3 separate regions of the Homo sapiens genome follow, and all the other regions are linked to region 2. The links come from fine-mapping of genetic effects on gene expression. A gene starts in region 2. Each other region holds a variant in brackets. All regions are shown on one strand. Distances are between the middles of the regions. Region 1 overlaps KMT5A (lysine methyltransferase 5A). Region 2 holds the start of KMT5A (lysine methyltransferase 5A). Region 3 overlaps SBNO1 (strawberry notch homolog 1).

Region 1 (10,530 bases), 28 kb before region 2:
TAGAGACGGGGTTTCACCGTGTGAGCCAGGATGGTCTCGATCTCCTGACCTCATGATCTGCCTGCCTCCGTCTCCCAAAGTGCTGGGATTACAGGCATGAGCCACCGCACCCGGGTTTTTTGGGGTTTTTTTGCTTTTTCTTTTTCTTTTGAGATAGTGTCTTGCTCTGTCGCCCAGGCTGGAGTGCAGTGGCGCAATCTCGGCTCACTGCAACCTCTGCGTCCCGGGTTCAAGCGATTCTCCTGCCTCAGCTTCCTGAGTAGCTGGGATTACAGGTGTATGCCACCACGCCTGGTTAATTTTTTTTTTTTTTTAGAGATGGGGTCTCACTATGCTGCCCAGGCATGTCTGAGACTCCTGGGATCAAGTGATCCTCATCCTCTTGCCTCAGCTTCCCAAAATCATAGGATTACAGGCGTGAGCCACAATGCCTGGCCTGGACATATTTTTGAGTCAACAGCTGCAAGAGCTACTTAGAAATTTTACGGGGGTTGCTGTGCCCCTTGCTTTGTTCCTTCTGCTTACCCTGAACCCTCTCTCTCTCCACACCAGGTTCTTTTTTCGATCGGGGAAACAGACCTAGATCCAAGGCCACAAGTAAGGCTATGGCTCTGATTCTAGAAGACAACCTTCCAAGATGCCTGGCAAAACCACCTCCCTGTGCCACACAGACACACTAGGCCTGTGTATTTATTTCCCCTTCAAAGCAGACTGAGGAGGGAGGAGACGAGGTTCTCTTGGCATCACTTTCTCCCTGGCTGCAGAACTAGACACCCTTGAAGATTTGGCCTGGGCCAGTGAGACTGAAATCAAGAAAAACAGAAGGGATGTGCAGGGTGGGGGGGTCCACTTCCTGCTCCCATGTCAACCCCCAGGGCCTCCAGCGTGCAGACGCGTGTCCTACTCATCTGCTCCCACGGATGACCCTGGTCTTCAATGGTTAGCAGAAGGGAGAAAAGAAAGCAGGAAAATGTGCTATTGAGATTCCAGTGGTGACTTCACTGATATTTAGTGAATATTTGATTTAGCCAACATGCCTTTCTTTATGTGATTTTGTATTAAAGTAAAATGATTTTTATACTTTCTATAGCTTATCTAGAGTGGTCTCTTAGTTACGATGGTACACATGGTATATGTGTGTATATGTCATATATCTACATTTCATTGTATAATGAATCAATTGCATTCATTCAGTCTAAGCGATGCACGATTATCTGGTGTCACTATGAAGGGAAAGATTGCTGCAAACTAAAATGTTAAGAAGCTATCGATTTTAGGACTCATCCTGATTTCAGAGGTGTTAAGATGTGAACAAAATGCATTTAGGAATCAATGAAACAGAGAGCGGGTGTCTGCACTTCGCAAAGGAACTAATGAGGCTGCCGCAACCATTCCGTGAGCCTGTCTTCTTAGTAAATAACAGTGGCTTACTCAATGTGTTTCGCCTGCTCTGTGGATTATCTCATTTGTTCCTCATAACCTGGGGAGATGGGGACCGGTACCGGTGCACCAGTTTATAGATTTTTTTTTTTTTTTTTTTTGAGACGGAGTCTCTCGCTCTGTCGCACAGTCTGGAGTGCAGTGGCACGATCTCGGCTCACTACAAGCTCTGCTGCCTACGTTCACGCCATTCTCTTGCCTCAGCCTCCTGAGTAGCTGGGACTACAGGCACTTGCCACCACACTCGTCTAATTTTTTTGTATTTTTAGTAGAGACAGGGTTTCGCCGTGTTAGCCAGGATGGTCTCGATCTCCTGACCTCGTGATCCACCCGCCTCAGCCTCCCAAAGTGCTGGTGAGAGGTGACAGCGTGCTGGCAGTCCTCACAGCCCTCGCTCGCTCTCGGCGCCTCCTCTGCCTGGGCTCCCACTTTGGCGGCACTTGAGGAGCCCTTCAGCCCACCGCTGCACTGTGGGAGCCCCTTTCTGGGCTGGCCAAGGCCGGAGCCCGCTCCCTCAGCTTGCAGGGAGGTGTGGAGGGAGAGGCGCGAGCGGGAACCGGGGCTGCGCGGGGCGCTTGCGGGCCAGCTGGAGTTCCGGGTGGGCGTGGGCTTGGTGGGCCCCGCACTCGGAGCAGCTGGCGGGCCCTGCCGGCTCCGGGCAATGAGGGGCTTAGCACCCGGGCCAGCGGCTGCTGAGGGTGTGCTGGGTCCCCCAGCAGTGCCAGCCCACCGGCGCTGCGCTCGATTTCTCGCCGGGCCTTAGCTGCCTTCCCGTGGGGCAGGGCTCGGGACCTGCAGCCCGCCATGCCTGAGCCTCCCACCCCCTCCGTGGGCTCCTGTGCGGCCCAAGCCTCCTCCACGAGCCCCACCCCCTGCTCCATGGTGTCCAGTCCCATCAACGACCCAAGGGTTGAGGAGTGCAGGCACAGGGCACGGGACTGGCAGGCAGCTCCATCTGCAGCCCCGGTGCGGGATCCACTGGGTGAAGCCAGCTGGGCTCCTGAGTCTGCTGGGGACGTGGAGAACCTTTGTGTCTAGCTCAGGGATTGTAAATACACCAATCGGCACTCTGTATCTAGCTCAAGGTTTGTGAACACACCAATCAGCACCCTGTGTCTAGCTCAGGGTTTGTGAATGCACCAATCGACATTCTGTATCTAGCTACTCTGGTGGGGCCTTGGAGAACCTTTGTGTCCACACTCTGTATCTAGCTAATCTGGTGGGGACGTGGAGAACCTTTGTGTCTAGATCAGGGATTGTAAACGCACCAATCAGCGCCCTGTCAAAACAGACCACTTGGCTCTACCAATCAGCAGGATGTGGGTGGGGCCAGATAAGAGAATAAAAGCAGGCTGCCCCAGGCAGCAGTGGCAACCCGCTCGGGTTCCTTTCCGCATTGTGGAAGCTTTGTTCTTTTGTTCTTTGCAATAAATCTTACTACTGCTTACTCTTTGGGTCCACACTGCTTTTATGAGCTGTAATACTCACCCCGAAGGTCTGCAGCTTCACTCCTGAAGCTAGGGAGACCAGGAGCCCACCAGGAGGAACGAGCAACTCCAGACGCGCCGCCTTAAGAGCTGTAACACTCACCACGAAGGTCTGCAGCTTCACTCCTGAGCCAGCGAGATCACGAACCCACCAGAAGGAAGAAACTCCGAACACATCTGAACATCAGAAGGAACAAACTCTGGACACGCCACCTTTAAGAACTGTAACACTCACCGCGAGGGTCCGCGGCTTCATTCTTGAAGTCAGTGAGACCAAGAACCCACCAATTCCGGACACACTGGGATTACAGGCGTGAGCCACCGCACCCGGCTTTTTTTTGGGGGGTGGTGGGGACGGAGTCTTGCTCTATCGCCCAGGCTGGAGTGCAGTGGCACCATCTGGGTTCACTGCAATCTCTGCCTCCCAGATTCAAGCGATGCTCCTGCCTCAGCCTCCCGACTAGCTGGGACTATAGGTATATGCCACCACACTGGGTTAATTTTTGTATTTTTGTAGAGACGGGGTTTCACCATATTGGCCAGGCTGGTCTCGAACTCCTGACCTCATGATCCGCCCTCCTCGGCCTCCCAAAGTGCTGGGATTACAGGCGTGAGTCACCGTGCCCGGCCAGTTTATAGGTTTAGAAACTGAAACTCTGGCTGTGGAGCTAGGAAGCAGCTTGCCCAGGAGGCAAATGCAGGCCTGATTCCAAGGCCCGGGCGCGGAGCTGCCAAGCTTTATGGGTCCAGAGTCACTGGCAAGTCCTAATAATAGTAATAATTTACTGTATGCCTCGCCTGCATCATTCTAAGTACCTTTCCGATGCTGTCTCACATACTTTTGTGGGATGGGTATCACTATTGTCCTTGGGGTCCTCCCAAGGAGGTTAAGGCATAATGGGTGAAAAGTCTTGTCTAAGGTCCTCAGCTAGAAAGTGGTAGAAGCAGGACTTGAGCCCAGATACAAAGTCCACACACAGGCTTCAACCACTCTGCCTTCCAGGAAGAGCTGGTAGTGTTTAAGAGTCTAGTCCAGAACACTGTCTCAACAGCATCATTAGATCAGGGCTCCTAATCCCTAGAACCCTGTGTAACACTGCAACCCTGGCCAGGCATAGTGGTTCAAGCCTGTAATTCCAGCACTTTTGGAGGCCAAGGTGAGAGGATTGCTTGAGCCCAGGAGTTCGAGACCAGCCTAGGCAACATAGTAAGAACCTATCTTTACAAAAAACAAAAAATTAGCCAGGCATGGTGGTGAGCACCTGTAGTCCCAGCTCCTGGGGAGGCTGAGGCGGGAAGATTAATTGAGCCCGGGAGTTTGAGGCTGCAGTGAGCTATGATCACACCACTACACTCCAGCCTGGGTGACAGAGTGAGACCCTGTCTCCAAATATATAAATGCTCCCCTGCCTCCCTGTGGGGATAGATAGGGTAAGAGAACCCACTCAGAAAGAAAGGTTAAGATGGCCTGGGTGGCTGTGGTACCCCAGGAGACTAAAAAAAGTTACGGTGAGAAATGCTTGGACTGCAACTCTTGGTAAAATCTGATGCTGGCAGGTGGGCATTTTGGAAAATAAGTCCTTGGGGTGATTCTCCTAGAGATGGGCCTAGCTTGACAACAGGTAACAGAGCTGTGACGTCAGCTGAGCTCTGGCGGTTCTCACACTGCAGGATTCCAACTACAAACCTAGACCGGGGAGGAACAGGCTCAGAAGTAGGTTTTCGCCGGGTGCAGTGGCTCATGCTTGTAATCCTAGCACTTTGGGAGGCCGAGGTGGGTGGATCACAAGGTCAGGAGTTCGAGACCAGCCTGGCCAAGAAGGTGAAACCCTGTCTCTACTAAAAATACAAAAATTAGCTATTCAGGAGGCCAAGGCAGGGGAATTGCTTGAACCTGGATGGCAGAGGTTGCAGTGAGCTGAGTTCATGCCACTGCACTCCAGCCTGGGCGACAGAATGAGACTCCGTCTCAAAAAAAAAAAAAAAAAAAAAAAGGTTTTCAAGCCAAGTCTCAGAAGGCACAGGAGGTGGTTGCTGTAGCAATCATCTTTTATTTTATTTATTTGAGACAGAGTCTCGCTCTGTCGCCCAGGCCGGAGTGCAGTGGCAGGATCTCAGCTCCTGACCTCATAATCCGCCTGCCTCGCCCTCCCAAAGTGGTGGGATTACAGGGATTACCGTGCCTGGCCAGCAGTCATCTTTTACAATGAACAAATAGGGCTGGGCGCGGTGGCTCACATCTGTAATCCTAGCACTTTGGGAGATGGGCAGATCACGAGGTCAGGAGACCAGCCTGGCCAACATGGTGAAACCTCGTCTCTACTAAAAATACAAAAATTAGCTGGGTGTGGTGATGCACGCCTGTAATCCTAGCTACTCAGGAGGTTGAGGCAGGAGAATCGCTTGAACCCGGGAGGTGGAGGTTTCAGTGAGCTGAGATTGCACCACTGCACTCCAGCCTGGGCGACAGACAGACCAAGACTCCATCTCAAAAAAAAAATAAATAAATAAATAAAAATAAGTCAGGCACAGTGGCTCACGCATGCCTGTAATCACAGCCCTGTGGGAGGGTGAGGCATGAGGATCGCTTGAGGCCAGGGGTTTGAGACTAGCTTGGGCAACATAGTGAGACCCTATCTCTACAAAAAGTAAAATGAACAAATAAATATAGCAACTACATATCAGAACTTGGAGGCACTTATTAGCTATTAGTCCTGAGTACTTGTAAACACTGAATAGAAGCTAGCCAAATTTTTAATTCTAATAATAGCTAATACTGATTACTGAAGGCTATGTGCAAGGCACTGTTCCAAGTGTTGTTTTTTTTTTT[T/A]TTGTATTAACTCATTAAATCCTCACAATCACCCTGTACAAGTATTATTACTGTCTCCATGTTACAGGGAGGGAAACTGACGCACAAGGAGACTACGTACCTGCCCAAGTTACACAGCAGTGGATTGGAAGCAGAGGTTCTGTTCCAGCAGCCACATGTCCCCTCCAAGGTGAAGCTATAATACTGATGCCTGAATCTTTGGGGGAGGAGGCAAGTCAAGTGGGCAGAGATTATCCCTATTTGAGACAAGTTTCAGAGAGGGGAAGTGACTTGACCAATGTCACACGGCTGACAAACACTTAAAACTGATGCTGGAACTGGATCTTTTGCATCTAAGCCAAGGGCTCTACTCACTGTTCCAATCTACCACCAGTGCCCAAGCATGGAGGGGACAGGGATCTGGGCTGGTAATAGGGACTTCCAGCCCAAGACAGGTGCAGTGATGATTCAGAGCCTCCTGAGAATCATCAAGTCTAGTAAATTATAAGTCGCAATGACAATTACATCAGCTAAAGTTTATGATGCTTACTATGTGCCATTGTTCTAAGGCTCAAAATGCATTAACTTTTAAGCTGGGCGTGGTGGCTCATGCCTATAATCCCAGCATTTTGGGAGGCCGAGGCGGGTGGATCATTAAGGTCAGGAGTTTGAGACCAGCCTGGCCAACACGGTGAAACCCTGTCTCTACTGTGGCCGGGTGCAGTGGCTCACGCCTGTAATCCTAGCAGTTTGGGAGGCCAAGGCGGGCAGATCACTTGAGGTCAGGAGTTCGAAACCAGCCTGGTCAACATGGTGAAAGACCGTCTCTACTAAAAATACAAAAAAATTAGCTGGGTGTGGTGGCTGGCGCCTGTAATCCCAGCTACTTGGGAGGCTGAGGCAGAATTGCTTGAACCTGGGAGGTAGAGGTTGCAGTGAGCCCAGATCATGCCACTGCACTCCCACCTGGGCAACAGAGTGAAATTCCATCTCAAAAAAAAAAAAAAAAAAAAAAAAAAAAAAGGCCAGGTGTGGTGGTGCATGCCTGTAATCCCAGCTATTCAGGTAGCCAAGGTACGAGAATTGCTTGAACCAAGGAGGTGGAGGTTGGAGGTTGCAGTGAGCTGAGACTGCCCCACTGAACTCCAGCCTAGGTAACAGAGACTGTCTCAAAAAAAAAAAAAAAAGCATTAACTTTTAATCTTCACATACCCTATGGTCCCCAGTATACAGATGAGGAAACGAAAGAGCTCAGAGTTCTGGGAAACACGCTCAAAATCACGTCAGTAAGCTTTTCTGGTTCCCCAGGAGGATGCTTACCAAAGCTTAGACATGCTGGTGTGACACAGTCAAATTGTAAAAACAGAAAGACACACACGTGGCCTTGCCTGGCAATAAATATTTTAATTTGTTTCATTTTTATGATGACAAATAATTTTCAAGTTTATTTCCTTGTTTAAATACAAAGCTAAACCACAAACAGGTATAATCAAGACATTGTGTCTCACATTTACACTCCCATCGGATCCTCTTCCAATTTGCTGACCACTGACCAGGCTAGCGGGGGGTGGGAGGGAAGACTTTCTTAGGTAGCACCGTCGTGAGGCCCGAGGTGGGGTTGGGGGGGAATCAAAGACGAGGACAGCCTCTCATACCTGTCTCCATTCACATTTACCTGGGACCAGGGTGGGCAGGAGACACCAGGTCATGGCTCCTGAGCCCCGGCCCCCTGGACTGAAGGGACAGTGTGTGAGAATCAGTTCTGTGAAGGGCGGGAGGAAGCAGTCACCTATTCCTCCTGCCTTCACAGTTAAGGTGAAAACCTTAGCCCTATCCTTGATTCCTGGGGGCTGCCGGGCCCTGTGTGCTCCCCTGCACACCTGGGTGCCTTTCTGAGGCTGGCAGCAGCGGCCGGGGTCAGGGGTCCTGGGCTCCTAGGCTCACACCTCAGCTCACAGTTGCGTCCTTGCAGGAGGACACTGGGTGTCTGACAAACACAAGGCCTCGACAGCAGGTCTGGAACTTTCAACCCCAGCAGGATGAGGGGGAATGGGGGTGGATGTCAGGTAAGTAATTTCTGGTCCCACTACAAAACTTTATTTTTGATTAGAGTACCATTCTCAATCTCTTCTACAAAAAGCAAAAAAAAGCAAAAAAAAAAAAAAAAAAAAGCAGCCACTTCACTCACTTCAAGACCTATATACATGTAAAGTTGTTTTCTGTGGTTTTTTTTATTTTTAATTTTTTTAAATTTTTATTATTATTTTTTAAAATAAATTCAGTGTTCACATTTCTATAAAGAATTAACCCAGTTTCAGGAAACCCTGCCCCAGCAGGGCAGGTAAGCAACCCTCTCCCTGCCCACATCTAGTTTGATTTCACGCCCTGATGCTTCAAGGTGCCCAGAAAAGCGGCAGCTTGTGGAAGAGGAAATCTATGCCCGGCCCGTGCTTGGGGCCCGGGGCTCAGTAAGCTTTCGAGAAAGCAGAGGGGAAGACTAGCTTACTGCAAAAACCTTTTTAAAAAATATTCATACACTTCAGTGAGCGCCTGTTGAGACGTTAGGGGAACAAGAGCTTGGAAACATCCCGTCCAGGCCATTGGGAGGCAGCGTCTTCCTCACACCCCGTCCCTGGATGTCGGGGGTGCAGGGGGAAGGTCCCGGCTCTTCCACTGGAGAAAGGAGACTCACCTGGCTTCCTAGTTCATGTTTGACTATTTCCTCTAAAACCTGTGCTGAGTCTTTGACTGCATGCACGGGAAGCACAAACGTTCGGCTTGTATGCAAAAAAAGTACAAAAACAACTAGAATATAAAAGTTTTGGTAATATAAGGCCATCTGTTCAAGTCCACCTTGGAAACCTGTAACAGATATTTAAATACTACAGTGAAAAGGCATCTTAATATACTTTTTAAAAACATCTGAAGTAATCCGCTAAGATTAAGTGTGTAAAAAAAAAATTCAATTCCCTTTGAGGGCACTTTGTCCTTTGAAGAAGGGAAAGTGGGGCGGGGAGGGCACGGGGCCCACCGGTTAATGCTTCAGCCACGGGTGGGCTTCAATGGAAGCCTTGCTGCGGTCCCCATAGTCATACAGGAGCTCCTCCCCAGCCGCGATGTCTCGGGAGGCGATGAGGATGAGGTGAGGTACGCCGTCGATGTCGTGCAGTTTGGTTTGGCAGTTCCCACATTTGCTGTGATTGATCAGTCTTCCTAGGCGATTTGTCTCTCTAGTTGCATCCACGCTGGAGGGGAAGGAGGGCCAGAGAGGATTAAATGGATAAAGAGGCTTTTCAACCTGAAGAGAGTCACACTTGTGCTCAGCTCTGGTGGGATGCTGATTTAAAGCCATGTGTTTTGAAAAGATTCAATTCATAAAGCTATTTTCTTTTTCCTTTTTAGAGGGGGTCTCGCTCCGTAACCCAGGCTGGAGTGCAGTGGCACGATCACGGCTCACTGCAGCCTCCACCTCCCGGGCTCAAGTCATCCTCCTACCTCAGCCTCCCGAGTAGCTTTGACCACAGGTACATGCCACCACATCAGGCTAATTTTTAATTGTTTCTGTAGAGACAAGATCTCCCTATATTGCTCAGGCTGGTCTCCAACCCCTGGGCTCAAGTGATCCTCTGGCCTTGGCCTCCTGAGTTTTTGAGATTACAAGCACGAGCCACCAGGTCTGGCTCAATTTGCAAAGCTTTTTTTTTTTTTTTTTTTTTTTTGAGAGGGAGTCTCGTCGCTCTGTCGCCCAGGCTGGAGTGCAGTGGCACGATCTCAGCTCACTGCAACCTCTGCCTCCCGGGGTAAGGCAATTCTGCCTCAGCCTCCTGAGTCACTGGGATTAGAAGCGTGTGCCACCATGCCAGGCTAATTTTTTTGTATTTTTAGTAGAGATGGGGTTTTGCCATGTTGGTCTGGAGCTCCTGACCTTCATGATCCATCCACCTCGGCCACCCAAAGTGCTGGGATCACAGGCATGAGCTACCACGCCTGGCCCACAAAGCTATTTTTGAGAGCCTGCACAGGCCCTGGGTGGGGGGATGGGGTAGGACCCAAAGGGCTCTTTATGGAGGCACAGGAGGAAATGGTAGAGTTTCACAAAATAAATGGATTAAAAAAATCAACCCCGCCAGGCGCGGTGGCTCACGCCTGTAATCCCAGCACTTTCGGAGGCTGAGGCGGGTGGATTACCTGAGGTCAGGATTTCAAAACCAGCCTGGCCACCATGGTGAAACGCTGTCTGTGCTAAAAATACAAAATTAGCTGGGCGTGGTGGCGCATGCCTGTAATCCCAGTTACTTGGGAGGCTGAGGCAGGAGAATTGCTTAAACTTCGGAAGTGGAAGTTGCAGTGAGCCAAGATCGTGCCACTGCACTCCTGCCTGGACAACAAGAGTGAAACTCCATCTCAAAAAAATAAAATAAAATAAAAAATAAAAAATTCAACTCCACTGGTCCTAGCCAGGCAAGATCAATTAGTGATTTCCAGAGCTGCTCTGGCCAAATGCCCTGAAGGAGAGCCAGGTGAGCTGCTTAACAGGTTTTCATGTGACTAGCCCACTTCTCCCCTTGGATGAGATAACATCCAGGACAGCTCCAATTCCAAAGATTAAAAATGGGAAGCTGGGGCCACAGTGGCTCATGCCTGTAATCCCAGCACTTTGGGAGGCCAAGGTGGGCAGGTCACAAGGTTAGGAGATTGAGACCATCCTGGCTAACACAGTGAAACTCCATCTCTACTAAAAATACAAAAAATTAGCCAGGCATGGTGGCATGTGTGTGTAGTCCCAGCTACTCA
Region 2 (10,530 bases):
ACCCAGAAGGGCTGTACTTGACCGGTAGGAAGCCCTGGGGAGACAGAGCCAGGGGTTATAATGATCGGTTTCCTGGGCGAGTCTCTTGCCGTTATCTCACTGAAACCTCACAGCAGCCCTGCAAAGGTAGACACCATTATTATCTCTTTTCAACAGATGGAGAAAGTGAGGAGCTTGGCCAAGTTCTCAGAACTAGATGGGTTTTCAGCCCCAGCCAACTGACCCCAGGGCCTTGCCCTCCCAGCCACTACCCTTCCTGGTTACAGATGAGGAAATGGAGTTTGGGAGAAGCAAATGGTCTTGCAGAAGGGTTTAACATGTCACCTTGTTCTCCTATCCCGCCGTGAGAAAATGCCCCCATAGGCAGACGAGGTTCCCGTCACTCTGGTGGCTGTTTCAGCATAGCTCACTGCCCTGCACCACTACTCTGTGGCCATTAAGGCTTGAGGGCCCACAGCCAGATTCACTGTATTTGTGCAAAGTCATAGATGCAAACAAGACACTTCAAGGCATCCAGCTCCTGCAGCCTGGCCCATGGCCTGGGAGTCAGGGGCTGGACTTATTTCCCTGCATCTGCCCAGAGGTGTTTTGTGACCATCGCCAAGTCACTTCCCCAGTCTGGGCCTCAGTGTCCTCATGGGTAAAAACCAAGAACCTTGAATTCCATAATCCACCAGAGCACCTTCCAACATCCACAGATAAGCAAATGGCTGTTTGTAGCCATCCTCCCACCTAGCCTCCCTCGACTCCCATTGGAACGGATAAGACTGAGTAGGATTAGGTGGTGACAGGTCACTGCTCAGACAATCCCTCCCAAATCAGCTCATGCTTTAGCATCCTTCAAGGCAGGGTCTCCAGCCCAACCACTAACTCCAGTGGGCTAGGTACTCTGCCTATGCCCTCTGCAGAGCCTACTACAGTTGAATATCCAAAAGATTACCCAGAGGGTGAAAGAGGATTCGAAAGTGACACTCTGATAACCAGGTTGAGCCATTTGAAAGCGTCTTCTATTTCTGCAAGGCAGAGAAGTTTTGCAGCTTAACTGCCATGAGAATCATGGTTTTGGAGCAGGAAGCACCCACATAGATCATCTTATCCATTTCACATTCTAGTATACCGAGCCACACCCCACGCCCCACTCATGGTCATAGCTTTCTCTGCATTTGAGCCCCCAATTGCAGGGGACACATTACAAGTCTAGCACCTATTCCTCTCAATTCTGCAGCTCCAGTACCTAGAAGATGTAAATACAGATCATTCAATGTAAGTTTCAAAACAGTCCTTTCTCCGCAAGTTTATACGTATATAACAAATACACCAGCTGGGCGCAGTGGCTCACACCTGTAATCCCAGCACCTTGGGAGGCAGAGGAGGGCAAATCACCTGAAATCAGGAGTTTGAGACCAGCCTGGCCAACATGGCGAAACCCCGTCTCTACTAAAAATACAAAAATTAGCTTGGCGTGGTTGCGCATGCCTGTAATCCCAGCTACTTGGGAGGCTGAGGCAGGAGAGTCACTTGAACCCAGGGGGGTGGAGTTTGCAGTGAGCCAAGATTGTGCCACTGCACTCTATCCTGGGTGACAGAGTGAGACTCTGTCTCCCAAAAAAAAAGAAAAGTCTGTATTTTTGGAGACCCCCCCACCAGGTGCTAAGGGATAATGAACTGAAGATGGCAAAATGAGGAGGGCAACCAACCAAGAGACCATTCAACAATGGCAGTAGAAATAGTGAAAGGTAGGTGGACTGACCCCTGAGACTAATATATTGGGGTTGTAAATATTTGCATGATTATAAAACTTCAAAATGAGTGAGGTGTTGCCTGGCATCTGACCAGTTTGTTTCTGTGACCCAGCAGGGCTCTCAAAGTGAATTGCAAGTTCAAAGCCCAATTTTCTAGAAGAAAAAGACTGTTCATTTGAAGTGCTGTAAATGATTTGGTATTTACAATTCTAAATATTGGCCAGGCGTGGTGGCTTTTGCCTGTAATCCCAGCACTCTGGGAGGCCGAGGTGGGCAGATAACCTGAGGTCAGGAGTTCAAGACTAGCCTGGCCAACATGGCGAAACCCCGTCTCTACTAAAAATACAAAAATTAGCTGGGTGTGGTGACAGGTGCCTGTAATCCCAGCTACTTGGGAAGCTGAGGCACAAGAATCACTTGAACACAGGAGAGGGAGGGTGAAGCGGGCTGAAATCACTCCACTGTACTCCAGCCTGGGTGACAGAGAGAGACTCTGTCTCAAAAAAAAAAAAAAAAAAAAAAATCTAAATCTAAATATCCAATTTAATAGCTTGCAAGGGCAGTAAAGCCTAAGAAACAGGTAACTACTAATTTGGGGGTCAAGTGAGACAGTGAGAATCAATAACTAATAATTACATAGGTGATTTGTAAGCTGCCATGGGAGGAGCTGACAAACATTATCTTCGCTTTGGGTAAGTAAGGGAGGTTGGGTGGCACAAGCAAAGACCCAGCCAAGCTAGAGTCTGGACAGCAAGTTTGGACTTCACGCTTCCTCTTCCAAAAAATGAGAATAACAATTTGTAAAGATCAATTGAGTTAATAAAGTGCCTGGCCCTCAGTGGTAATTATTATTATTTTGTTATTGTTCTTGTTTGTTTTTTTGAGATGGAGTCTTGCTCTGTTGCCCATGCTGGAGTGCGGTGACGTAATCTCGGCTCACTGCAAGCTCCACCTCCCAGGTTCAGGCAATTCTCCCTGCCTCAGCCTCCCAAGTAGCTGGGATTACAGGCATGCGCTGCCATGCCCGGCTAATTTTGTATTTTTAGTAGAGACGGGATTTCTCCATGTTGGTCAGACTGGTCTCGAACTCCCGACCTCAGGTGATCTGCCCGCCTTGGCCTCCCAAAGTGCTAGGATTACAGGTGTGAGCCACCATGCCTGGCCATAATTATTATTTAGTCATATTTTAAGTATTTCAATGATAGATGGTTAGTTTTCTTCATATATTAATTAATGCACTACTTTTAAAACAAGTAGTTTAAATGATTTTGCTGTGATGAGAAAAATGAACCCAGGAAGCATAGTTTTATTAAAATTTGTCAGATAAATTAGTCAGATAATGTTAAATATACTTTTAGATGCTTAACACTTTTCAAAGGAAAAATATTAGTATTAATTTTCTCCAAGAGTTGAGTGATGAAGCTCTTTAACCTGAAGTTTACTATGCCTCATTTTTTCATCAGGCTCTGGGTAAGTCTTATCCCAAAAGAACCTCTAGGGATGCTAGGAGAATAGATGATGCAACTGACTTCAGGGCCTGAAAACAAAGGGACCCAATAGATATTTACTGAATGAATCATTATTTTATTCATTATTATTGCTATAGGGAGCATACTGCACTAAAGCAAATTCCTACTAACACTTGAAGCCTTGAAATTTTGAGAAAAATATAATACCAAAACTTTTTTTTTTTTTTAATACTAATTCTACTCAACTTTCACGCTCAAGTTTTTGGCCCTTTGGCGTGAAGGAGACGCAGTGGCTGGAAATGACCAAGCGGTTGGAGATCTCTTTGCCGCATACCTGGGAGGCACTGTCCTGACAGCCAACTAAGTATGCAGAGGACTTCAGACAGGGCATCGCCTCCCAGGGCTGTACAAGCCCACCCAAGCCATCTACCGGGGGGCGAAGTCCTGACCAGATGCGGGGCGAACGACCGCGCCCGCGAGATGCCAGGAACCCGTTTTACCCCAAAGTGGGCCAGCGGGGCCCGGCCTTCGCTCCAGCGGCGCAGAGCTGACTCAGGACGTGGGGAGGGAGGAAAGGCGCCTGCTGCGGTGTCCACCCTGACGCGCACCCCAATATGCAGGTTATCGATCTGCGCCTTCGCCTCGGGATCACCTCCTTTCCCAAAGAGAGAGGGCCCCAAAGTGGGCGAAGCCTCACTCCTGCCCCCGCCCCACTTCTATCAATAACACCTATTCCCTGGAGGTGCCCTGCGCTTTAGTTTCCAAAGAGCTCTGACATATGGATCTGCTGCCGTGGAGAGGCAGGCCCGCAGGTGTTCACTTCATAGAAGGGAAACAGAAGCACGGCAGTGGGAAGGGTTTCTGGGGGCATCTGGAGCCGCAAGGGGGGGCCGGCGGGTTCCGCAGCAGCACCCCCTCTCCCCCCACGCGGGTCCCCAAGCTTGCCCCGAGCCACCCGAGGAGGACGCCTCCCCGCAGCCGCTGCCTCCACCCCGGCAACCCCTCCAGCACGACCCCCGACCCAGCCGCTCCGGTGCCGGCCACTTGGGCAAATACCTCTAGCCATGGCTCCACTCTGTCACCGCCTGGGATCTCCCGGGAAACCCAGCTTTCGAAAAAAGTTGCAACAACTCAGCCAACTGCTCCGCCGGGCTCCAGCTGCTCGCCCCGATTGGCGCCGCCTCCCGCCTCTCCGCAGGCTGCCCGTAGTGATAGGCCAACTCGGAGAAAGGCCCCGCCCTTCTCCCGCCTCTTCGGCGGCGGGGCGTGTCCAGCCGCCGCAATAACTGCAAACGCTTTCCCGACAGGTCCCGGCGGAGGAGGTGGGAGGGGTGTTTAAATTTGACCGTCGCCAGACGTTGAATGGCTGCGATGGAAGACACCCGAGCTGCCATTGGGAGGCCCCAGATTCCTCCCCCTCCCGCTGCTGAAGCTCCGCCTCCGGAGCGTGAGTAGCCCGGCTGGAGCCCTGGGCTCCGAGCCGACCGGATCTGGGACTTCCGGTTCTCTGTGGGCTTGACCGGAACCCGACCTTTGACCCCTCGATCTTCCCTTAAGAGCTGGGAAACCTGAGTCTCCCAGCAGTTTAGCAACTCCAGCACACCGACCTCTCCAGCAGTTTGATCCATTCATTCTCAGGTTTGAAAGGTTTTGGCCGGGCGCGGTGGCTCATGCCTGTAATCCCAGCACTTTGGGAGGCTGAGGCGGGCGGATCACCTGAGGTCCGTGGTTCGAGACCAGCCTGACCAATATAGAGAAACCCAGTCTCTACTAAAAATACAAAATTAGCCGGGCGTGGTATCGCATGCATGTAATCCCAGCTACTCGGGAGGCTGAGGCCGGAGAATAGCATGTAATCCCAGCTACTCGGGAGGCAGAGGTTACGGTGAGCCGAGATCGCGCCATTGCACTCCAGCCTGGGCAACAAGAGCGAAACACTGTCTCAAAAAAAAAAAAAAAAAAAAAGGTTTATTGAATATTCCAGTATTCAAAACCCGGCCGGGCGCGGTGGCTCACGCCTGTAATCTCAGCACTTTGGGAGGCCGAGGCGGGTGGATTACGAGGTCAGGAGATCGAGACCATCCTGGCTAACACGGTGAAACCCCGTCTCTACTAAAAATACAAAAAAAATGAGCCGGGCGTGGTGGCGGGCGCCTGTAGTCCCAGCTACCTGGGAGGCCGAGGCAGGACAATGGCGTGAACCCGGGAGACAGAGCTTGCAGTGAGCCGAGATCACGCCGCTGCACTCCAGCCTGGGCGACAGAACGAGACTCCGTCTCAAAAAAAGAAAAAAAAAAAAACCCACAGACACAACTCCTACCAACTAACTGGGTCAGTAGGGAAGGTCCTTCCAGGACCGCAAAGATCCTAATGCTTCACACCCACCCATTTTACAGATGGGGCAATAGAGGAAGCGGGTCACTTACGCGCTGCCCAAGGTCACCCAGCAATGTAATTGCAGGGCCTGGGTCAGTCTCTCCACTGTTCAAACACTAAATGGCTACCTTATCCCGAGGGAAGCAAGTATTCGCTGTTCCCCTCTGAGAGAGGGGGCTCAGTCAGTATGTTCCCAGAGAATCAGGTGTCCTGGAGTGTCTGCTTTGGACTCAGGGAAGGCGTCCAGTTACTACTGCTCTTCCCTGGGGCCCCTCCCAGGGGTGTGGGACGAGGTCACTAATCCATCCTGTCTCTTTGGTAATTGAAAAGGTTTTGGAGACCCAACCATTGCCCAAAGACTCTTCCAAAGCACCAGGAAAATAGGAAAGGAAAATAAAATGATATATGTGAAAGCACTGGGAAAGGTAGAAAAGGACACTTTTGTCACAAAGTCACTGTGTCACTTGGCACATCAGTTCAGCTCTCTGGCCTTCCATTTCCCTACCTGTCAAATGAAGGAGCTGGTGCCGTAATCTCCAACATGCCTTACAGCTTCCATAAATATGTGGAAGTGTGGCAGTGTGCAGTGGCTCTCACCTGTAATCCCAGCACTCTGGGAGGCCGAGGCAGGTGGATCACGAGGTCAGGAATTCAAGACCAGCCTGACCAACATGGTGAAAACCCCGTTTCTACTAAAAATACAAAAATTAGCCAGGCGTGGTGGTGCGTGCCTGTAATCTCACTACTCAGGAGGCTGAGGCGGAGAAGTGCTTGAACCCGGGAGGCAGAGGTTGCAGTGAGCCAAGATCGTCCCACTGCAATCCAGCCTGGGCACCAGAGCGAGACTCTGTCTCAAAACAAACAAACAAACAAACAAAAAATATATATAGAGAGAGAGGTGTTTGCTTTCTCCAAAATTGATTATTTCAACATTTATTGAGCTCTATGCCTGCCGCTGTTTTGGATCCCCCAAGGATCCGAAGGGAAAGTAGACACAGCTCCTTCCCTGCATTCTTTTAGGGAAGAAACAAGGCATTATTTAAAAGATAATTTTAAGGCTGGGTGTGGTGACTCACACCTGTAATCCCAGCACTTTGGGAGGCTGAGGTGGGCGGATCACCAGGTCAGAAGATCGAGACCATCCTGGCTAACACGGTGAAACCCCATCTCTACTAAAAATACAAAAAAAAAAAAATTAGCCGGGCGTGGTGGCAGGCACCTGGAGTCCCAGCTACTCGGGAGGCTGAGGCAGAGCTTGCAGTGAGCCGAGATCACGCCACTGCACTCCAGCCTAGGCGACAAAGAGAGACTCCATCTCAAAAAAAAAAAAAGAGAAAAAAGAAAAAAAAGATCATTTTGTTTATTTATTTTTATTTTTCTTGAGACGGAGTCTCTCTCTGTCTCCCTAGGCTGGAGTGCAGTGGTTTGATCTCGGCTCACTGCAACATCTGCCTCCTGGGCTCAAGCAATTCTCCTGCCTCAGCATTCTGAGTAGCTGGAATTATAGGCGCCCACTACCATGGCTGGCTAATTTTTGTATTTTTAGTAGAGATGGGGTTTCACCATGTTGGCCAGGCTGGATTCGAACTCCTAACCTCAATTGATATGACGGCCTCAGCCTCCCAAAGTGCTGGGATTACAGGCGTGACCCACTGCGCTCAGCCCAATTTTTGTATTTTTAATAGAGATAGTGTTTCTCCATGTTGGCCAGTCTGGTCTCAAACTCCTGGCATCATGTGATCCAGCTGCCTCAGCCTTCCAAAGTGCTAGGATTACAGGCATGAGCCCACCACCCCTAGCCTAAAAGATTATTTTTATTTTATTTATTTTTTAAGACAGGGTCGCATTCTGTCATCCAGGCTAGAGTGCAGGGGCACGTTCTCGACTCACTGCAACCTCCACCTCCTGGGCTCAAGCAATTCTCCTGCCTCAGCCTCCCAAGTAGTTGGGATTACAAGAGTGTGCCATCATGCCCACCTATTTTTTTTTTTTTGAGACGGAGTCTCGCTCTGTCACCCAGGCTGGAGTGCAATGGCGTGATCTCGGCTCACTGCAACCTCTGCCTCCTAGGTTCAAGCAATTCTCCTGCCTCAGCCTCCCGAGTAGCTGGGATTATAGGCATGCGCCAAAACACCCAGCTATTTCTTTTTTGTATTTTTAGTAGAGACGGGGTTCCACCATGCTCCCCAGGCTAGTCTTGAACTCCTGGCCTCAAGTGATCCACCCGCCTCAGCCTCCCAAAGCGCTTGCCTTACAGGCGTGAGCCACCGCGCCCGGGCATATTTTTGTATTTTTGGTAGAGAAGGGGTTTCACCACGTTGGCCAGGCTGGTCTTGAATTCCTGACCTCAAATGATCTACCTGCCTTGGCCTCCCGAAGTGTTGGGACTACAGGCGTGAGCCACACGCCCATCCAAAAGATTATTTAATTTAATTAATTTATTTATTTTATTTATTTATTTTTTGAGACAGAGTTTCACTCTTGTTGCCCAGGCTGGAGTGCAATGGCACAATCTCGGCTCACCGCAACCTCCACCTCCCAGGTTCAAGCGATTCTCCTGCCTCAACCTCCCGAGTAGCTGGGATTACAGGCATGCGCCACGATACCCAGCTAATTTTGTATTTTTAGTAGAGACAAGGGTTTCTCCATGTTGGTCAGGCTGGTCTCAAACTCCTGACCTCAGGTGATGATCAGTCCACCTCGGCCTCCCAAAGTGCTGGGATTACAGGGGTGAGCCACCGCACCCGGCCTATTTATTTTTTGAGACAGAGTCTTGCTCTATCGCCCAAGCTGGAGTGAAGTGGCAGGATCTTGGCTCACCACAACCTCCGCCTCCCGGGTTCAAGCGATTCTCCTGCCTCAGCCTCCCAGATAGCTGGGATTACAGGCACCCGCCACCACACCCAGCTAATTTTTGTATTTTTAGTAGAGGTGGGGTTTTGCCATGTTGGCCAGGCTGGTCTCAAACTCCTGACCTCAAGTGATCTGCCCACCTTGGCCTTCCAAATTGCTAGGACTACAGGCATGAGCCACTGCTCCCAGCCCAAAAGATCATTATAAATAGTGATTAATGCTATAAGGAAAAAAGGCAGGCCAGGCCTGGTGGCTTATGCTTGTAATCCCAGCACTTTGGGAGTCCGTGGCAGGTGTATCGCTTGATCTCATAAGTTTGAGATCAGCCTGGGTAATATCCACATTTCTACCCTGTTCTGTGATACAGAGCAGCAAACCATAATTCCCCGTTCTCAGTTAATGTTAGGTTCTTCCAATGAGAGCAGATAGAAGCAGTCTGGGAGGCAGGAGGAAGAGAGGGGACTTGTTCTTGCCTGTTTGCTTACTATTCCTAGCATGTTCCCCTCAGTAATAACACTGCCTCTGGCAGTAGTATTTGGTTCAGTCTCCAGGTTCTTTGTACACTCCCAGAGACAGCCTCCTTGTGCTCCCGCGGAGGCACCAACAGCAGACCCCTCCTCAGAGTTTTGAGTCCCAACTACACAGGGCTCTGGGAGGCCCAGCACCAATCTGGTTGTGCCTCTTTCTTTTTTTCTTTCTGTCTTTTTTTTTGAGACAGAGTCTCGCTCTGTCACCCCAGTGGCACAATCTCAGCTCACTGCAACCTCTGCCTTCTGGGTTCAAACGATTCTCCTGCCTCAGCCTCCCACATAGCTGGAATTGCCGGCATGCACCACCACATCAGGCTAATTTTTTGTATTTTTAGTAGAGACAGGGTTTTGCCATGTTGGCCAGGCTGGTCTCGAACTCCTGACCTCAAGTGATCCGCCCACCTCTGCCTCTGAAAGTGCTGGGATTACAGGCATGAATCACAGCGCCTGGCTATGTGCCTCTTTCTTAGAGGGGTGAGAACGAGCTCTCCGGGGCTCTTCCTCCGATTTTGCTAGCTGTGCTAACCCCAACTTGTTTTTATTTTTATCTCCAGCTTTGGAGGTGGTAGCTGCTTCCTCTAGTTGTTATTTACATTGCCTCGGTGTTCCCTTTCTGCCTTCTCAGTCCTCTGTCACCCGTTTAATGAATTTCCTATTTTAACCTCTCTGTTTTCCTAACTGGATGCTGACTTACAGAAGGGCACTAGTAAGACTTATATTTTTACTCCAGTCCAATGGAAAGCCACTAAATGGTTTTAAGCAAAGGGTAGATTCATAGATTGTAAATCTGAATACTAATTTATTGCAAAGAGTACATAAATTATAATTATCGACACTGGGCGTGGTGGCTCATGCCTGTAACCCCAGCACTTTGGGAGGCCCAGGCAGGAATATGACTTGAGGTTGGGAGTTCGAGACCAGCCTGGCCAACATGGCGAAACCCAGTCTCTACGAAAAATACAAAAAAACTACAGGTGGCACACACCTGTAATCCCAGCTACTTGGGATGCTGAGGCAGGAAAATCGCTTGAACCTGGGAGGCAGAGGTTGCAGTGAGCCAAGATTACACCACTGCACCCCAGCCTGAGCGACAAAGTGAGAATAAAAAAAAAATATATGGCCAGGCACGGTGGCTGACGCCTATAATCCTAGCACTTTGGGAGACAGAGGCAGGTGGATCACCTGAGGTCAGGAGTTCGAGACCAGCCTGACCAATACGGAGAAACCTTGTCTCTACTAAAAATACAAAATTAGCCAGGCGTGGTGGCGCATGCATGTGATCTCAGCTACTCGGGAGGCTGAGGCAGGAGAATTGCTTGAACCCGGGAGGTGGAGGTTGTGGTGAGGTGAGATTGTGCCATTGCACTCCAGCCTGGGCAACAAGAGTGAAACTCCGTCTCAAATTAAAAAAAATATATATATATATATATATGAGATAGAGGATGTGCAAATATATATAAATATATGTTACTATCTTCATTTTTTCTTTCTTTTTTTTTTTTTTTGAGATGAAGTCTCACTCTGTCACCGGGCTGGAGTGCAATGGCGCGATCTTGGCTC
Region 3 (10,530 bases), 57 kb after region 2:
CTTTCCTACCTAATGGAGATCGTGCTGGCTTCTTAATAGGTGATGGTGCCGGTGTAGGAAAAGGAAGGACGATAGCAGGAATCATCTATGAAAATTATTTGTTGAGTAGAAAACGAGCATTGTGGTAAGTGTTTAAAAACTGGCTGTGGGCCAGGCGCAGCGGATCACGAGGTTAGGAGATCGAGACCATCCTGGCTAACACAGTGAAACTCCGTCTCTACTAAAAGTACAAAAAATCAGCCGGTCGTCATGGTGGGTTCCTGTAGTCCCAGCTACTCAGGAGGCTGAGGCAGGAGAATGGCGTGAACCCTGGAGGCATAGCTTGCAGTGAGCCGACATTGTTCCTCTGCACTCCAGCCTGGGTGACAGAGTGCGACTCCGTCTCAATGGAAGGTTTTGTTAGTAATTACTTTAGCATGTGGGGATGGGATCCGCCTTCCCCATCTAGACAGGATCTTTGTCACCCAGGCTGGAGTGCTGTGGCATATTCATGGCTCACTGCAGCCTCTACCTCAGGGGCTCAAGCAGTTCTGCCTCAGCCTCTTGAGTAGCTGGGACTACAGGCATGCACTACCATGCTTGGCTAATTTTTTGTAGATACGGGCTCTTCTTGTGTTGCTCAGGCTGGTCTCGAACTCCTGGGCTCAAGCAGTCCTCCTGCCTTAGGCTCCCAAAGTGCTAGGATTATGGGTGTGAGCCACTGCACTCAGTGGGATGGTGTTTTAATGAGTAAGTGTATTTTCTTTTTCTTTTTTTTTTTTTTTTTAAGTGTCAAGACCTGGCTTTATTAATTTTATTCCTGAATTCTAGAATGATATAATTTGTATTTAATTTGTGCTTTTTAATATTTTGGCAGGTTTAGTGTTTCAAATGACTTAAAGTATGATGCTGAAAGAGATTTAAGGGATATTGGAGCAAAAAACATTTTGGTTCATTCGTTAAATAAGGTATGAAATCTTTTTATTCAGTTGGTCATTCAATAAATATTGACTCATCTGTGAGATGACAATAATAATAGCTATGTATATAAGGGGACACTTTTTGGAAAACTTTGATGTTACTCCACAGAAAGCATAGTGAGTGCTAGCCACTATTGTTGGTTTGTGGATTCCTATATGCTAAACACTGACAGGCAGTAGCCACTCATCACATGTGGCTATTGAACAGTGTAAGTGACCAGTCCAAATTGAGATGTGCTCTCAAGTGTACAGTGCACACCAGTTGATTCTCTCAATTTTCAGTGTTATTTTTATCTTTCTTTTATAGTTTATATGCCATAAGGGTGCAGTTTAGACAGGTGGCATACCTTGCACTATAGGTCACCAAATCATATGCGATGTAGATAGTTATGGCTTGGGCAGACTGGTTTCAGTATTTGTACAGCTAATGGACTTGAGTTACTCATACCTCTGCTCACATGAAAACAATTCTGTAAGCTGAAAGACAATGTGTGCCAGTGTGTTTTAGAATGTTAAGGTTCAGTTAGCAAATCTTTATTGACTTACTATGCATGCACCAATTGTTGGTGCTATAAGGTTAAAATAGACTGATAGGGTTCCTGGAAGGGCCTCCCTAGTAGCCCTTTGAAAATAAGTAACTGCACCTCTACTTCCCATGTGAGTCCTAAGTTGAATTCAGTGTTGCCCTAAACAGTGGCTTGTTAGGGTGGGTTTTACTGGGTGGATTTGTAGCTATAAAGTACTGTGTCTTGAATGACTGTATACAATTCAGAACTAAAAGGATGTAAGTGGCATCTAGAATTTTTTTTTTAAATTTCAGAGTAGTATTAGAAAGGCACATTAACAATTACTCATAATTCTTATGTATCAGAAATTAATCACAGTGTTTTGCATATAGTAAGTGCACAATAAATGTTTGTAAATTGTGACTTTTTATTCTTATAGGGAAGTTTGTCTGGTTTTTAATGTTTTTTTTTGTGATGATAAAAGTTTTTAAGACTTTGAAAACTGGATTTAAAAAAAAAAAAAAAAGATCTCAGCTCTGTTGCCCAGGCTGAAGTGCAGTGGCACAATCTCGGCTCACTGCAACCTCCATCTCCCAGGCTCAAGCAGTTCTCCCACCTCAGCCCCTGTGGTAGCTGGGACTGCAGACACGCACCACGATGCCTGGCTAATTTTTGTATTTTTTGTAGGGATGGGGTTTCACTATGTTGGCCAGGCTGGTCTTGGAACTCCTGAGCTCAAGCGATCCACCCACCTTGACCTCCCAAAGTGTTGGGATTACAGGTGTGAGCCACTGTGTCCTACCAAAAACTGGATTTTTGTACTATAAAGTTGTGTGTTTGTGTTGTGTACATTTATACAAATAAATTTGCGTCTCTGTACTTTTATGTTTTCTGAAGCCTGTCATGGGCCTAACAAGAGTTCCTGCTTGTGAATGTTTAGTTGGGATGAATGTTGCAGAGAGAAAGGTATACTAATTAACTAAATTCTTTTCTTTTCTTTTTTAGTTTAAATACGGAAAAATTTCTTCCAAACATAATGGGAGTGTGAAAAAGGGTGTTATTTTTGCTACTTACTCTTCACTTATTGGTGAAAGCCAGTCTGGCGGCAAGTATAAAACTAGGTTAAAACAACTTCTGCATTGGTGCGGTGATGACTTCGATGGAGTGGTATCCTTTATGGCAAATATTTTTCTATTTTTTAACGACAAGAAAATTATAAAAGGGTAGACCTTTGGGAAACAGGAATCTTGAGATTAAACGAGTTGCTGGAGTGAAAACTTTAATGATTACCTAGAGTCCAAAGGGATTGGAAAGTTGATTCGGTTTTTTACCTGTCAGATAGGAGACCAATGTTTAATCTCCTGGTTTAGAAAAATGTTAATAGATATGAGGAATACTGAATACTGTATTCCCCTTTTGAGGATTAACATTGCATATTTACATAGCAGAATACCCGAGAAGACTAAGTGAAAGAAAACTGTTAGAACTTAGTGGTCCCAAACTTGTTCACAGTATATCTTTTAACTGTCCTGCATGAGGAACATCACTTTTTGAAATGCTGATTAAGTTGGTTACCAATCATGCTTCTACTTTTACAAGTTACCAGATAACAACTTCTTGCTGCAGTGGGTTCTTTTCTCTGTTTTAATTTAGAGGCAAATTGCTGGTTTAAATTCCAAATTCAGTGAATGTCTTTGAGGCTAGAGAGGGAGGAGGATGTAACTGGGGAAAGGCCCATAGGACTTCCTTTGTATTTGCAGTCATGAAATAGGCAATCAGAAGGCCTCAGGGAAATAAAAGTTAACTCTTCTTGAAAGACTGGAGATTCTTACTTAATACTAATGTGATACATTCCTTAACTCATTCCATTTAGATAGTGTTTGATGAGTGTCATAAAGCCAAAAACTTATGTCCTGTTGGTTCTTCAAAGCCAACCAAGACAGGCTTAGCAGTTTTAGAGCTTCAGAACAAATTGCCAAAAGCCAGAGTTGTTTATGCTAGTGCAACTGGTGAGTATTTATTTATTTAAAAATATATATTGTAGGTTATTTTTTCAACTATAATATATTTCATTTGTGGGATTTTCAGGTGCTTCTGAACCACGCAACATGGCCTATATGAACCGTCTTGGCATATGGGGTGAGGGTACTCCATTTAGAGAATTCAGTGATTTTATTCAAGCAGTAGAACGGAGGTAATGCAGTTTACGGTATATACTCTTCTCAGTAGCAATCTAAGAAGTGTGTTATTCCTAAAGCCCATTCTCTGTATGTTAAAATTCTACTGTATTGGTAATTACTGTATGTTTTAATTTTATTCAGAGGAGTTGGTGCCATGGAAATAGTTGCTATGGATATGAAGCTTAGAGGAATGTACATTGCTCGACAACTGAGCTTTACTGGAGTGACCTTCAAAATTGAGGAAGTTCTTCTTTCTCAGAGCTACGTTAAAATGTATAACAAAGCTGTCAAGCTGGTGAGGAATTTTTCTTAATTCCTAGTGTTTATTTAATGTATCTGATAATGTTTCTGTTAGTTTTGGCGATTGCGATGCCTCCTGCCCATGGGAATGTATTTCTACTATAAAACAACAGATGAAGCCAGGCACGGTGTCTCATGCCTCAGCACTTTGGGAGGCTGAGGCGAGCAGGTCACCTGAGGTCAAGAGTTCAAGACCAGCCTGGCCTACATGTTGAAACCTCATCTCTACTAAAAATACGAAAAAAAATTAGCTGGGCATGGTGGTGTGCGCCTGTAGTGCCAGCTACTTGGGGAGGCTGAGGCAGGAGAATCGCTTGAACCCAGGAGGCGGAGGTTGCTGTGAGCCAAGATGGTGCCAGTGCACTCCAGCTTGGGTAACAGAGGGATACTCCATCGCAAAACAAAAACAAAAACAAAAAACAAAAACAAACAGATGAGTTACCAGATGATAGGCTGTTTAACCAATGTGTTTTTTTTTGTTTTTGTTTTTAATTGAAGCAGGGTCTTACTCTGTCACCCAGACTGGAGTACAGTGGTGTGATCTTGGCTTACTGCAACCTCTACCTCCCAGGTTCAAGGAGTCCTCCAGACTCTGCCTCCTGAGTATCAGGGACTGCAGGCGCATGTCAATGTGCCTGGCTGATTTTTGTATTTTTTGGTAGAGATGAGGTTTTACAGTGTTGCCCAGCCTGATCTGGAACTCCTGGGCTCAAGCAATCCACCTGCCTCAGCCTCCCAAAGTGCTGGGATTACAGGCATCAGCCACTGCGCCTGGCCTAACCAATGTTCTTATATTTCAGATTGTCCATGTTTTCATTTTGTTAAGGTAATTCATAAGTTATAGCCATTTATTTCAGTTGCATAGTTCTTAAAATCACATTATTTTCTAAAATGACTGCATTAGGTAATAAGAAACTTGAGACAACTGTGTGAGTATCCTGAGAAATAGATTCCCAAGTTACTAAAGATGATTTATTAAATTAATATTAAATGGTCTTGCACTTAACATTGTTTTGATTTAATTGGTATTTTTAAATAACTAGACTCAAAGATGAAGTGTCTGAAATGTTGATTATGTATCTTCAGTGGGTCAT[C/T]GCCAGAGAGCGGTTTCAGCAAGCTGCAGATCTGATTGATGCTGAGCAACGAATGAAGAAGTCCATGTGGGGTCAGTTCTGGTCTGCTCACCAGAGGTTCTTCAAATACTTATGCATAGCATCCAAAGTTAAAAGGGTTGTGCAACTAGCTCGAGAGGAAATCAAGAATGGAAAAGTAAGTAGAAGAACTCATTAAGAGATTGTTTGGGGGTTATGTTGTTTAGTCTTTGTGGGTGCTGAGGTTTTCTGCTTGTAAAATCTGGTTTTCCTAAAGGATAGTAAAACTTCTAAAAAATACATTTCTTAAAATTATAAAAGCAATGCCTGCTTAGAGAATTTAGAGAGTTCAGAAAAGTATAACAAAGTAAACATCACTATAATTGGTCATCCATAGCTGGTAGCACTGGTAACATATGGATGTGTATTGCGTTAAGGTTTTTTCTTTTCGGTGAATATTTATCTACTTAAAGCATAAGATACTATAAACTGTACAAGGGCAGGGGCTTCACTCATGCTTACTACTGTCTGTAATCCTATCTCCTGCCTAAATTTTTGACAAATAACCTGTCTCAAATATGTAGAAGAAATAAGTAAAACAAATTTGTGTTTTATAATAATGAGGACATTCTTGTTTGAAATCTTTGTTTAGCTAAATGTTTAAAATATGTCTTGGTAAGAAGCCACAAACATTATTATTCATAATTAACATGTTTTCTTTTTTCTCCAGTGTGTTGTAATTGGTCTGCAGTCTACAGGAGAAGCTAGAACATTAGAAGCTTTGGAAGAGGGCGGGGGAGAATTGAATGATTTTGTTTCAACTGCCAAGTAATGTTTTTGTTCTTTTAATGTTTTTGTTTCTTTTTGAGTTCTTCCTTACCTTAGTTCCAATGTGGGCATTTCCTGGAGACAAAACTTTTGTTTCACCTGCATCATCTTTAAGTTTTCTTGATCTGAGTTTTCTGCTTTTCTGTAACAGTGTATCTATTGGAAAACAATAACAGAAATCTCATAATCCTAAAATGTTAAGCATTTTGCTAATATTACACAGAGTATGTGAACTAACAGAAGGGCTAGACTTTGTTTATCTTGTACATCTTGGAAATCTGTGACAGCTTGGCTTAGATTCAGTTTTAGTGTACTGTATTTGAAATTACCGTTATCCACAGGAACAGTAACTATAGTTTGTCCTAATATAACGAAGTCTACTTTATAAGTTGGCTGAGCATGGTGGCTCACAGCTGTAATCTCAGCACTTTGGGAGGCCAACATGGGCACATCACTTGAGGTCAGTAGTTTGAGACCAGCCTGGCCAAAATGGTGAAACCCCATCTCAACTAAAAATAAAAAAAATTAGTTGGGCATGGTGGCACACGTCCTGTAGTCCCACCTACCTGGGAGGCTGAGGCAGGAGAATCCATTGAACCCGTGAGGTGGAGGTTGCAGTGAGCCAAGATCGCACCACTCCACTCCACTCCCCTCTGGGCGGCAGAGTGAGACCCTGTCTCAAAAAAAAATAAAATAAAATAAAGTCTACTTTAAAAGTTGAAAATAAGCATGAGATCTTCAGAAATAGATTTTAAAATGTTTTAGGCATTGTTTTTAGTTTGCCTAACCTCCACATTCAAACTCTGGTAGTAAACTGAGCAAAATAAACTTGCTGCTCTACTATTTTGTGCCTCGGGATGCATTCAGATGCTCCTTTCAAAAGCAATACATGGGGCTCACGCCTGTAATCCAGGCACTTTGGGAGGCTGAGTCTGGTGGATCACGAGAGCTCAGGAGTTTGAGACCAGCCTGGCCAACACGGTGAAACCTCGTCTCTACTAAAAATACAAAAACTAGCCAGGCGTGGTGGCGGGCACCTGTAATCCCAGCTACTGGAGAGGCTGAGGCAGGAGAATTGCTTGAACCCAGGCGGCGGAGGTTGCAGTGAGCTGAGATGGCACCATTGCACTCCAGCCTGGGTGACAGAGAGACTCGGTCTCAAAAAAAAAAAAAAAAAGAAAAAAGCAAGACATACACCTGCTAATCTATATTTTTCTGTACATAATTGCCTAGAACTACCGTGTCCAGAATGGCAGCCGCTTGTCACATGTGGCTATTGAGCAGTTGAAATGACTGGTCCATATTGAGATGTTATTATATGTGTACTGAGCCAGGTTTCAAAGACTCCTTAAGAGAAAATAACATAAAACATATGTGTTGACATGGTATATTGAGTTAAAATGTATTATTAAAATTAGTTCCACCAGTTTTATTTATTTTTTACTTTTTTAATTTAAGCTACCAGAAAATACAATAATTGTGTATGTGGTTTGGCTTGCATTCTTATTATTTAGTTGGACAGCTTTGGGCTAGAAAATTAAAATTTATTTGAGCTCGTTTATCAGTATTTTGTAAAACTGAACAAAGTATATTTCAATATATTTAATAATACTTTACATATAATTATTTTGTCAACTGAAGCAGTAATTGTCACTGTTTCTCTCCTACAGAGGTGTGTTGCAGTCACTCATTGAAAAACATTTTCCTGCTCCAGACAGGAAAAAACTTTATAGTTTACTAGGAATCGATTTGACAGCTCCAAGTAACAACAGTTCGCCAAGAGATAGTCCTTGTAAAGAAAATAAAATAAAGAAGCGGAAAGGTGAGCACTTTAAAAAAGAAAAAATAGGCCAGGTGCGGTGGCTCACACCTGTAATCCCAGCACTTTGGGAGGCTGAGGTGGGCAGATCACGAGGTCAGGAGATCGAGACCATCCTGGCTAACACGGTGAAACCCCATCTCTACTGAAAATACAAAAAATTAGCCGGGCATCGTGGTGGGCACCTATAGTCCCAGCTACTCGGGAGGCTGAGGCAGGAGAATGTCGTGAACCCAGGAGGCAGAGCTTGCAGTGAGCCGAGATAGCGCTGCTGCACTCCAGCCTGGATGACAGAGCGAGACTCTGTCTCAAAAAAGAAAAAGAAAAAAGAAAATAGTTGACGTTGAAAATACTGTTGAAATTAAAACATAAGCATTTTAAAGTGGCTATATTTTGGGAATGAACTGCCTTCCATGAATTCACAAATGGTTCCAAATTTTCACTGTCACTTGTACAATTTTGAATGCACAAGTTATCCCCGTTTTAAATTAGGAATTGAGCAATTCACTGGTGGTTGGCAGTGTGTTAAGCACTTGGCTATATACATTCTACCATATAACCTGGCAGAGGTCCATACGAAATTAGGTCTTATTTTTCCAATTTTATAGACAGAGATCATTGAAGCACAGAAAGATTTAAAGATTAAAGAGTTTTCCTAGTTTCACAGAGATAGTTAATGATGCATGGGAACTAAAACCTGTGTCTTTGTATTGTCAGACCTGTTCTTTAATATATAGACAGCTGGGTGTTTCAGTAGTTTTCTTTAAAAGAGCCTTTTCTTTTTTTTTCTTTTTTTTTTTTGAGACAGGGTCTCCGTCTCCGTCACCCAGGCTGGAGTGCAGTGGTACCATCTTGGCTCACTGCAACCTCTGCCTCCTGGGTTCAAGGAGCTGGGATTACAGGCATGCACCACCACGCCCTGCTAATTTTTGTATTTTTAGTAGAGATGGGGTTTCACCATGTTGGCCAGGCTGGTCTCAAACTCCTGAGCTTAAGCAATGCACCCACCTAGGCCTCCCAAAGTGCTGGGATTACAGGTGTGAGCCATCTCGCCCAGCCCTGTTTTGGTTTTAGAAGTTGACTTCTCGCCGGGCACAGTGGCTCACGCCTGTAATCCCAGCTTTTTGGGAGTTGAAACAGGCGGATCACCTGAGGTCAGGAGTTCGAGACCAGCCTGGCCAACATGGCGAAACCCCTTCTCTACTAAAAATTAAAAACTTAGCCAGGACTGGCGGCAGGGGCGCCTTATAATCCCAGCTATAAGGGAGGCTGAGGCATTAGAATCACTTGAACTCGGGAGGCAGAGGTTGCAGTGAGCCAAGATTATGCCACTGCACTTTAGCCTGGGAGACAGAGTAGACACTGTCTGGGGAAAAAAAAAAAATATCTGGTCATGGTTGCATGTGCCTGTAGTCCCAGGTACTTGGGAGGCTGAGGTGGGAGGATCACATGAGCCAGGGAAGTCGAGGCTGCAGTGAGCTATGATTGTGCCACTGCACTCCAGCCTGGGCAACAGTGAGGCCCTGTCTCCAAAAATAAAAAGGTTTTATAAATTGATTTTCTATTGATTTTCTAAGTATTCCATGTCTATAAACCTGTAATTATTAGGCCTCTTCTCAAATCTGATACACAGTCAAATTGTGACTATGCCAGAGGTTCTGCTTTTACTCTGTTGTCCTGAATATGTTTTGAAACTTGTGCACTTGAAGGCAGTCTTGACTTAGTACTTTTGTATCCAATTTCTTCTTCAGAATAAATGTTTATAACCTTATTTTTTATGGGAGTCCAAAAGGTTAGTGCTGGTTTGTGAATTCTGTTTGTTTTTTGACTTAACCTAAATACTTTTCCTCTGCACTTTTCATTTGAATTAATTCATGAACTAAATGTGATGTACTGGATCTTAAGAAACATTGAATTTGGGCTGACTCTCTTGTTTGTGGCGGAGGGTAGGTGAAGAAATAACTCGAGAAGCCAAAAAAGCACGAAAAGTAGGTGGCCTTACTGGTAGCAGTTCTGACGACAGTGGAAGTGAATCTGATGCCTCTGATAATGAAGAAAGTGACTATGAGAGCTCTAAAAACATGAGTTCTGGAGATGATGACGATTTCAACCCATTTTTAGATGAGTCTAATGAGGATGATGAAAATGGTAAGTTCAGTATATTAAATATACACGAAAGCATATAATATTTCAGTATATTTGAAAATGGGATATGAAACCTTTTCTTCTGTACAGTACAAATGATCACACAGATTATAATCTTTGCTTGGTGGAAAGCTCCAGGCTTATCTACCTTCTGGAAGTTTGAGCCTCATATATGTGAGAAGATAACCTCAATTTTGTGCAGTTATTTTTAACTTGAAAACATGGATTTGTACCCCATGGTGTATGGATGAACCAATGTAGGTGGTGATAAGTTATCAGTTAACAATATAAAAAATTTCATCCAGGCGCGGTGGCTCATGCCTGTAATCCCAGCAATTTGGGAGGCTAAGGTGGGTGGATCACCTGAGGCTGGGAGTTCGAGATCAGCCTGACCAACGTGGAAAAACCCCATCTCTACTAAAAATACAAAATTAGCCAGGTGTGGTGGCACATACCTGTAATCCCAGCTACTCAGGAGGCTGAGGCAGGAGAATCGCTTGAACCCAGGAGGTGGAGATTGCAGTAAGCTGAGATTGCGCCATTGCACTCCAGCCTGGGCTACAACAGCGAAACATTGTCTCAAAAAAATAAAATTTCAAAGGTTGTTTCCTTTGAAGATTCTGTACTTGTTTTAACAAATGATTTGACATGTATCTTTCCTTAACACTCAGATCCCTGGTTAATTAGAAAAGACCACAAGAA

The links. PIP is the estimated chance that this variant, and not a neighbour inherited with it, causes the effect.
Region 1: its variant is fine-mapped to the expression of KMT5A in whole blood (TOPMed, PIP 0.98).
Region 3: its variant is fine-mapped to the expression of KMT5A in whole blood (INTERVAL, PIP above 0.99).

The regions. Positions count from the first base shown.
Region 1 is chr12:123,405,944-123,416,473 of GRCh38, reverse strand. It overlaps KMT5A (lysine methyltransferase 5A), which reads right to left. Exons shown (of 8, transcript NM_020382.7): 8 at 7,121-8,981. The coding sequence ends at 8,771. RILPL2 (Rab interacting lysosomal protein like 2) reads left to right here. Exons shown (of 4, transcript NM_145058.3): 4 at 553-1,435. The coding sequence ends at 583. Among named protein-coding and RNA genes, the nearest start is that of RILPL2, 25 kb to the left of the region's middle. The variant T/A (reference allele first, on the strand shown) is at 5,758.
Region 2 is chr12:123,377,946-123,388,475 of GRCh38, reverse strand. It overlaps KMT5A (lysine methyltransferase 5A), which reads right to left and starts at 4,344. Exons shown (of 8, transcript NM_020382.7): 1 at 4,268-4,344. The coding sequence starts at 4,277. RefSeq lists enhancers at 3,714-3,873, 4,714-4,933, 4,456-5,186 and silencers at 4,054-4,223, 5,151-5,373.
Region 3 is chr12:123,320,836-123,331,365 of GRCh38, reverse strand. It overlaps SBNO1 (strawberry notch homolog 1), which reads left to right. Exons shown (of 32, transcript NM_001167856.3): 8 at 1-124; 9 at 857-947; 10 at 2,471-2,632; 11 at 3,339-3,474; 12 at 3,554-3,659; 13 at 3,787-3,940; 14 at 5,032-5,214; 15 at 5,767-5,864; 16 at 7,535-7,686; 17 at 9,634-9,831; 18 at 10,500-10,530. Among named protein-coding and RNA genes, the nearest start is that of MIR8072, 39 kb to the left of the region's middle. The variant C/T (reference allele first, on the strand shown) is at 5,040.